2 linked regions of the Homo sapiens genome follow. The gene in region 1 interacts genetically with each later gene. Each region holds a gene or a part of one and is shown in the gene's direction. Other genes may lie near its edges.

Evidence for each region. Genes that interact genetically often act in the same process or in processes that back each other up.
Region 2: changes in GBF1 (region 1) and RAB3GAP2 together harm fitness more than expected from each alone (negative genetic interaction), as found in Homo sapiens cells (one study listed by BioGRID).

The regions. Positions count from the first base shown.
Region 1 is NC_000010.11:102,374,508-102,378,131, forward strand, and holds part of GBF1 (Golgi-specific brefeldin A-resistance guanine nucleotide exchange factor 1), read left to right. Parts: intron 1-851; coding exon 852-1,077; intron 1,078-1,764; coding exon 1,765-1,925; intron 1,926-2,052; coding exon 2,053-2,293; intron 2,294-2,427; coding exon 2,428-2,633; intron 2,634-3,624. UniProt on the Homo sapiens protein: Guanine-nucleotide exchange factor (GEF) for members of the Arf family of small GTPases involved in trafficking in the early secretory pathway; its GEF activity initiates the coating of nascent vesicles via the localized generation of activated ARFs through replacement of GDP with GTP.
Region 2 is NC_000001.11:220,153,854-220,157,630, reverse strand, and holds part of RAB3GAP2 (rab3 GTPase-activating protein non-catalytic subunit), read left to right. Parts: intron 1-142; coding exon 143-361; intron 362-3,573; coding exon 3,574-3,663; intron 3,664-3,777. UniProt on the Homo sapiens protein: Regulatory subunit of the Rab3 GTPase-activating (Rab3GAP) complex composed of RAB3GAP1 and RAB3GAP2, which has GTPase-activating protein (GAP) activity towards various Rab3 subfamily members (RAB3A, RAB3B, RAB3C and RAB3D), RAB5A and RAB43, and guanine nucleotide exchange factor (GEF) activity towards RAB18.

The DNA.
Region 1 (3,624 bases):
CCAGGAGTTTGAGGCTGCTGTGAGCTATGATCATACCACTGCACTCCAGCCTGGGTGACAGAGCAAAACCTGTCTCTAAAAAAAGAAAAAGGCAACATGAGGGATACTGTTGTGGTGGAACTGTTCAGTATGTTGTTTTGTGGTGGATACCCAAACCTACACAGGTAATAAAATTGTATAGAAATTAATACACACAAAAATGCAAGTAAAACAGGAAATCTGAATAAGATCAGATAGTATCTTGATTATGATATTATACTATAGTTTTGCATAATGTTACCATTGGGATAAACTGGGCAAAGTGTATAAGGGACCTTTTTGTATTATTTCTTTACAACTGCATATGAGCCTATAATTTTCTCAATAAAAATTTGTATTTGAGGCTGGGTGCAGTGGCTCATGCCTATAATCCCAGCACTTCAGGAGGCTGAGACGGGAAGATCGCTTGAGCCTGGGAGTTCAAGACCAGCCTGGGCAACATAGCGAGACCCCATCTTTCCAAAAAAGAAAAAAAAAATTAGCCAGGTGTGGTCACATGCACCTGTAGTCCCAGCTACTCCAGAGACTGAGGCAGGAGGATCACTTGAGCCCAGGAGTTTCAGGTTGCAGTGAGCTGTGATTGTGCTACTGTGCTCCAGCCTGGGAGACAGACCAAGACCCTGTCTCAAATAATATAATTAATATATTTCTATTTGAAAAAAAAAAAAAAGACCAGAGCAGTATCCTAAATTGGGTCCTAGCCAAACTGTCTTCACTGGCCTAAGGAGACTGGTGGGAAAGAAAACTAGACAGGAAGCTGTGTGCCCACACAGCTCCCCGCTTCCCCGCTCCCTGCCCTAACCCCACTCCAGGTGCTGCTCTCCCTGCGCATTTTGCTACTGATGAAGCCCAGTGTGCTATCCCGAGTCAGCCACCAGGTTGCGTATGGGCTCCATGAACTCCTGAAGACCAATGCAGCCAACATCCACTCAGGTGATGACTGGGCCACACTCTTCACACTGCTGGAGTGCATCGGCTCAGGTGTGAAGCCTCCAGCTGCTCTGCAGGCCACAGCCAGGGCAGATGCACCTGATGCCGGTAAGCCCTTTCCCAGGGAGACTCAGGCTGGCAGATAAACAGTTACACCCCAGGAGTTGGGACAGGAAAACAAAACACAGGTTACTGTGTTCAGCAGATTAAACAGCCCTGGCTCCTGCCATCACTTCCAGAGCTTCCAGTGCCCGCTGGCTAGTACCCATAAGTTAAATAGCATGAGGGCAAATAAGCAATGCAGACGGCTGTGAAGCCAGGCTTCCTACTGTCCTGAGGACTGATTTGTCCTGAGGACTGTTTCCCAGTTTCTGTTTCTGAGCTGTCCCGAGGACTGTTTTCCCAGAATTCTGGGAAAATAGAATTCTGTGAGCAGACTTTATATCACTAAATCGATACATCACTAAATCCCAGAAACTGGGAAAACAGTCCTCAGGACAGTGGAAAGCCTGGCTTCATAGCCTTCTGCATTGCTTATTTGTCCTTGCCACCACTCCCTAGAGTGGTGCTACAGCTGCCACTAGATGCCATCAGGAACCCAGATTAGCCTGCCACCTTATTTGGTCAACAGAGAAACTGTTCCGGCCATCCTTTGGCCCTCTGGTGACAGAAATTAAACTATGCCAGAGAGAGGGGAGGCCAGGCCTCAGCATCTTTTTTCTGAGAGCCTGATTTATCCCTCATCCCAGTGCCCCATCCCCACCCTGACTCTGCCCTTCTCCCTGCCTACCATAGGGGCCCAGTCAGATAGTGAGCTCCCATCCTACCATCAGAATGACGTGAGCCTGGATCGAGGGTACACTTCCGACTCAGAGGTCTACACTGACCATGGCAGGCCGGGCAAGATACACCGATCAGCCACAGATGCCGATGTGGTCAACAGTGGTTGGTTAGTGGTGAGTGACAATATGGGCAGCAATTGAGTCTCTCCTGCTTGACCTGTGGGAAGAATTCCTGGTCCTCTGCAAGGACATTCACACAGGGGCCAAGCCTGTGTCCCCAGCTCCTCTGTGTACTTTACAGGTTGGGAAGGATGACGTTGATAACTCCAAGCCAGGGCCCAGCCGCCCAGGCCCTTCACCCCTGATCAATCAATACAGCCTAACAGTGGGACTGGATTTGGGGCCACACGACACTAAGTCTCTGCTTAAGTGTGTGGAATCGCTGTCCTTCATTGTGCGTGATGCTGCCCACATCACACCTGACAACTTTGAGCTCTGCGTCAAGACTCTCCGGATCTTTGTGGAGGCCAGTCTGAATGGCGGTGGGTCAGCTGATGAGGGGGCAGCTGGGGAGTAGCCATGCAATTATGCAGGGGAGAGGCTGAGAGGGGAGAAAAGGCAGGGTATCTATGCCTATATAGACACAGAAATGTGACCTGAGTCTGGCTCTGCTCAGGATGCAAGTCCCAGGAGAAACGTGGCAAGAGTCACAAATATGACAGCAAAGGGAACCGCTTCAAGAAGAAATCCAAAGAGGGATCAATGCTTCGCCGGCCTCGAACCTCCAGCCAACATGCCTCTCGGGGCGGGCAGAGTGATGATGATGAGGACGAAGGCGTGCCTGCCAGCTACCATACGGTGTCTTTACAGGTCAGTCAGGACGTAAGTATGGCACCCTTTACTTCCTCTCCTCCCCTGCACCTGATACTGGGAGCCTGGGGCGGCCAGGGAAAGCCAGGGCTGAGGGGAAGGGCCCATGTGTGCCAGCCCAGGCCCTGGACCACCATCTTCACAATATTCCCTTACCCAAAACCTTACCTGTAAGTCTTTATTTGCTTAAATTTATTTATTTATTTATTTTTATTTTTATTTATTTATTTATTTATTTATTTTTTGAGATGTAGTCTCTCTGTCACCCAGGCTGGAGTGCAGTGGCGTGATCTCGGCTCACTGCAACCTCCACCTCCCGGGTTCAAGCGATTCTCCTGCCTCAGCCTTCCAAGTAGCTAGGACTACAGGCGCGTGCCACCATGCCTGGCTAATTTTTTGTATTTTTAGTAGAAACGGGGTTTCACCATGTTGGCCAGGATGGCCTTGATCTCCTGACCTCGTGATCCGCCTGCCTCGGCCTCTCAAAGTGCTAGGATTACAGGCATGAGCCACCACACCTGGCCTTTAAATTTATTTTTAAACTAAGATTTACTTATTTTTTGAGTAGGTTCAAAATATACAAAAGGGTAAACTGATAAAACTAAGTTTCCAATCCATTCCTGTCCCCAGCTTCTGAGTTCCCCTCACTAGAGGCAGCCACTGTCACCAGTTTCTTGTCTATCCTTCCAGAGTTACCCTGTGTCTATTCAAAGGCATATAAAATTAATTATGTGAGCAGAGTTTATATCACTAAATTGATGGAGAACCAATTGCCTTAAATAGAATAACCATACAAAAATGACAAAAGTGGCTGGGCTTGGTGGCTCCTGCCTGTAATCCCAGCACTTTGGGAGGCCGAGGCGGGTGGATCATGAGGTCAGGAGATGGAGACCACCCTGGCTAACACGGTGAAACCCCGTCTCTACTAAAAATAGAAAAAATAGCTGTGCATGGTGGCAGGCGCCTGTAGTCCCAGCTACTCGGGAGGCTGAGACAGGAGAAT
Region 2 (3,777 bases), on another chromosome or scaffold:
ATTAGACTTTGTGTTTTTTTATTACAATTTGGGACAGTGTGCAATATGAATTTGCACTTTGCTGCTAATAAACTCATTGGGATATTTGTAAGCTATTATTTTTCCATTACTGAACACAGTCCTCCATTCTCAAAACCCTTAGGCAGATGTTAGCAGGGATGAAATACAGGTGCCTGTGCTGGATACTGAGGATGCGTGGCTCTCCGTGGAAGGACCAATCTCCATAGTGGAACTGGCCCTTGAACAGAAGCACATCCACTACCCACTGGTGGAGCACCACTCCATCCTGTGCTCCATCTTGTATGCAGTCATGAGGTTTTCTCTGAAGACCGTGAAGCCACTTTCACTTTTTGACAGTAAGGTAAGTACCTCACAGGATTTCAGAGCTATTTTGGAGTTGCAGGCTTAGCAGACACATGGATTTTCATATTTAATAGAAGCTGTCCAGTACTTTTGTGACTGGTATAATTTGGTGTGAGGTTCCAACTCCCTCATTCCCTGCTTGATTCCGTTCTTTTTATTTACCTTCTGTACTGCTCCCCTTGGAGTTTTGCCCTCTCAGCTGTCTGCTCTTCTCATTCTCCATATTATTCCTGGACAGACTCATTTTCTCCCTCTTATATATCTCTAGGCCTGACCAATCCCTAGAGTTTGAGGCATTCATTTCTTTTGAACTTCTCTCTTTGAGTGTCTTATAGGACTTCAGACACCTCATATCTAAAATATATCTGCAAACCAATACCCACATCCTGCCCCTAACCTAAATTTGCTGTTCCTTCTGAATTCCCTGACTTGGTTATTTTATTAACGATGTCATCATTTTTGCCCTGGCAAAAACTAGAAACTTTGAAGTTATCTCACCAATTCCTTACTTCAAGCCAATTTTCTTCATTGTAAATTCATTCTTGTAAATTCTGCCATAGATCATGCCTGTCCGTTTCTCTCCATGACTATAACCCTAGTTCAGGCATAATCATCTTTCCCTCGGCTATTACAACAGCCCTTTCTTAATCACGCTGCCTCCAGTTTCTCTCTCTCCAGTCCCATGCTGCAAGAGCTGTCTTCCTAAGAGACAGGTTTAATTGTATTAGTTCTATACCTAAGATTTTTTTTGGCTCCTCTGCAGGATCAAGTCCAAATTTGTGAGTAGAATATGTTTTTACATATTCTATTGTAACCTTCACAGTTTAGCTGCAGTGGATAGTAAAATCCTTTCCTTCCCCACGCAGGTGTCAAATTTTGAGAGACAGGACAAACTGTTGGAGACAAAAACGTCAACATTATTACTTAGCTTTTTACTGATAGAAGCTGGGTTAGAGAACACAGCTTAGGCTTGTGGGAAAGTGGGTTTATTATTTCACCCTTAAATGAGAGACTCCCGGACAGTCATGGTGGCTCACACCTGTAATCCCAGCACTTTGGGAAGACAAGGTGGGCAGATCACTTGAGGTCAGGAGTTTGAGACCAGCCTGGCCAACATGGTGAAACCCTGTCACTAGTAAAAACACAAAAACTAGCCAGGCATGGTGGTGTGTGCCTGTACTCCCAGCTACTTGGGAGGCTGAGGCAGGATAATCGCTTGAACCTGGGAGGCAGAGGTTGCAGTGAGCCAAGATCACACCACTGCACTTCAGCCTGGGCCACAGAGTGAGACTCTGTCTCAAAAAAAAAAAAAAGTATAGATTTTGAATGAGTTAGTATATCTTTGAGAATATAAGCGATAAGAGTACTTAAAAGTTAAAAAAGAGAAAGAAATACCAAAATAAAGTGCCTAGCTCAGTATTCCCATCAGAAAAGGCCTTTGTGAAACCAGAACACATCCAGAATTGGATTAGCACAATAATGTTTAGTTTCAACCCATGTCATGCCAAGACTACCTGAGACAGCTGGGTGACACTCATCTGCAGAGAGCTAGTATGGTTGAGTGGCTAGTGAAAACAATCCCGGTGCTACCATTTGCTAACTAGAATTATTTAGATTTTCTTACTCTCAGTTTTCTCATTCAGAAAGTAGCAGTGCCAGCCTCATGGTTGTTGTAAGGGTTCCTTGTATTCAACATGAAGTACTTAGCAGCATCTGGAATGTAGTAAATAATAAGTGGTGCTATTATAGATGCTATAGCTAGGACCACCAGGTGGGAACTATCGAGTAACAGATTGTGAGTGTATGCTAAATCTTTAAATACTTCTCTCAGTGATGTCCAAAATGTCATGGGTTGCCCTGTAAGTCCGGTTTTTCTTATCACTAAAGGATGAGTAGCTTTAATCTACTTGGCAGTCACAACAGATGACCTAGAATCACAGATGATTAGGTATGGAAGGCACATTGGAAGATACCTAGGATGACCTGCTTGCAGAAGAAGAAACGGTAACCCAAGATTGTGGGTCATTTACCCAAGGCAACCTGGATGGAAGTGGTGAGCCTTGGACTAGACCCAGGTCTTTCAACTTAAAGGCCAATGTTCTTTGCTCTGTATTACATTTCCTTCCAAGGAACTTCTAAAATCCTGTTTCCTGATATTCTGTTTTTACTCTTTAGACACACATCTGTTCTTTTAAATAAGGTGTTTTTAAACAATTCAACAAGTGTTTTTAAAAGGATTCAGAGGCTGGGCGCGGTGGCTCATGCCTGTAATCCCAGCACTTTGGGAGGCTGAGGCGGGCAGATCACCTGAGGTCAGGAGTTTGAGACCTGCCTGGCCAATATGGTGAAAACCCCGTCTCTACTAAAAATACAAAAAAATTAGCCTTGGCGTGGTAGTACACGCCTGTAGTCCCAGCTACTTGGGAGGCTGAGGTGGGAGAATCGCTTGAACCAGGAAGGTGGAGGCTGCAGTGAGCTGAGATCACACCACTGTACTCCAGCCTAGGCAACAGAGTGAGACTCTGTCTCAAAAAAAAAAAAAAAAAGGATTCAGGGTACATATATGTATTACTTAGCTATTACTGCGGAGTAAATCATCCCAAAACTTGGCTGAAAATAACAAATATTTATTATCTCACAGTTGTTGTGGGTCAGTAATCTGTGTTCTCCTTATCTAGGTGCCTCTGGCTTAGTCTCTCATGAGGCTGTAGTTAAGGTGCTGCATCTGAAAGCTCAACTGGGATGGGGACAGGGTGATTCACTTCTAAGCACAATTGTTGGCAAGATTCAGTTATGCCACATGTGCCTCTCCATACAGCAGCTCACAACACGGAACCTGGCTTCCTGCAGAACAAGTGAGAGTGAATATGAGTGCCTCAAGGCAGAAGAAGCAGTCTTTTGGAACGTGGTCTTGGAAGTAACATGTATCACCTCTACCTGCTTCTGTTGCTAGAAGCAAGTCATCAGCCTCCATGCAAGGAGAGGAGACTATAGGAAACACGAATACCAGGAGGAGGGGATCACTGGGTTTCATCTTAAAGGCTGTCTACTATATACTAGATAATTGTTATAAAAATTATTCTAAAATCTTACTGTTCAAGGAGAAATAAAAATCAACCATAAGTTATTATTAAGTTTTAAACAAATCTTTCTCCCTCTCCCCCCTTAATAATCCACACTCATCAGTTTTCTTGCTCTCTTTCTTTTTAGGGAAAAAATGCATTTTTCAAAGACCTAACTTCAATTCAGTTATTACCTAGTGGGGAAATGGATCCAAATTTTATTTCTGTACGACAACAGGTAAATTATAGCTATTGGATTTTGTTTTTGTTTCTTGGAAAAAAAAACATAAGGGAAAAATCTAGCTGGCTTTTGAAAAGAATGACTACTTTCTATCGCAAGGACAGAAAACCA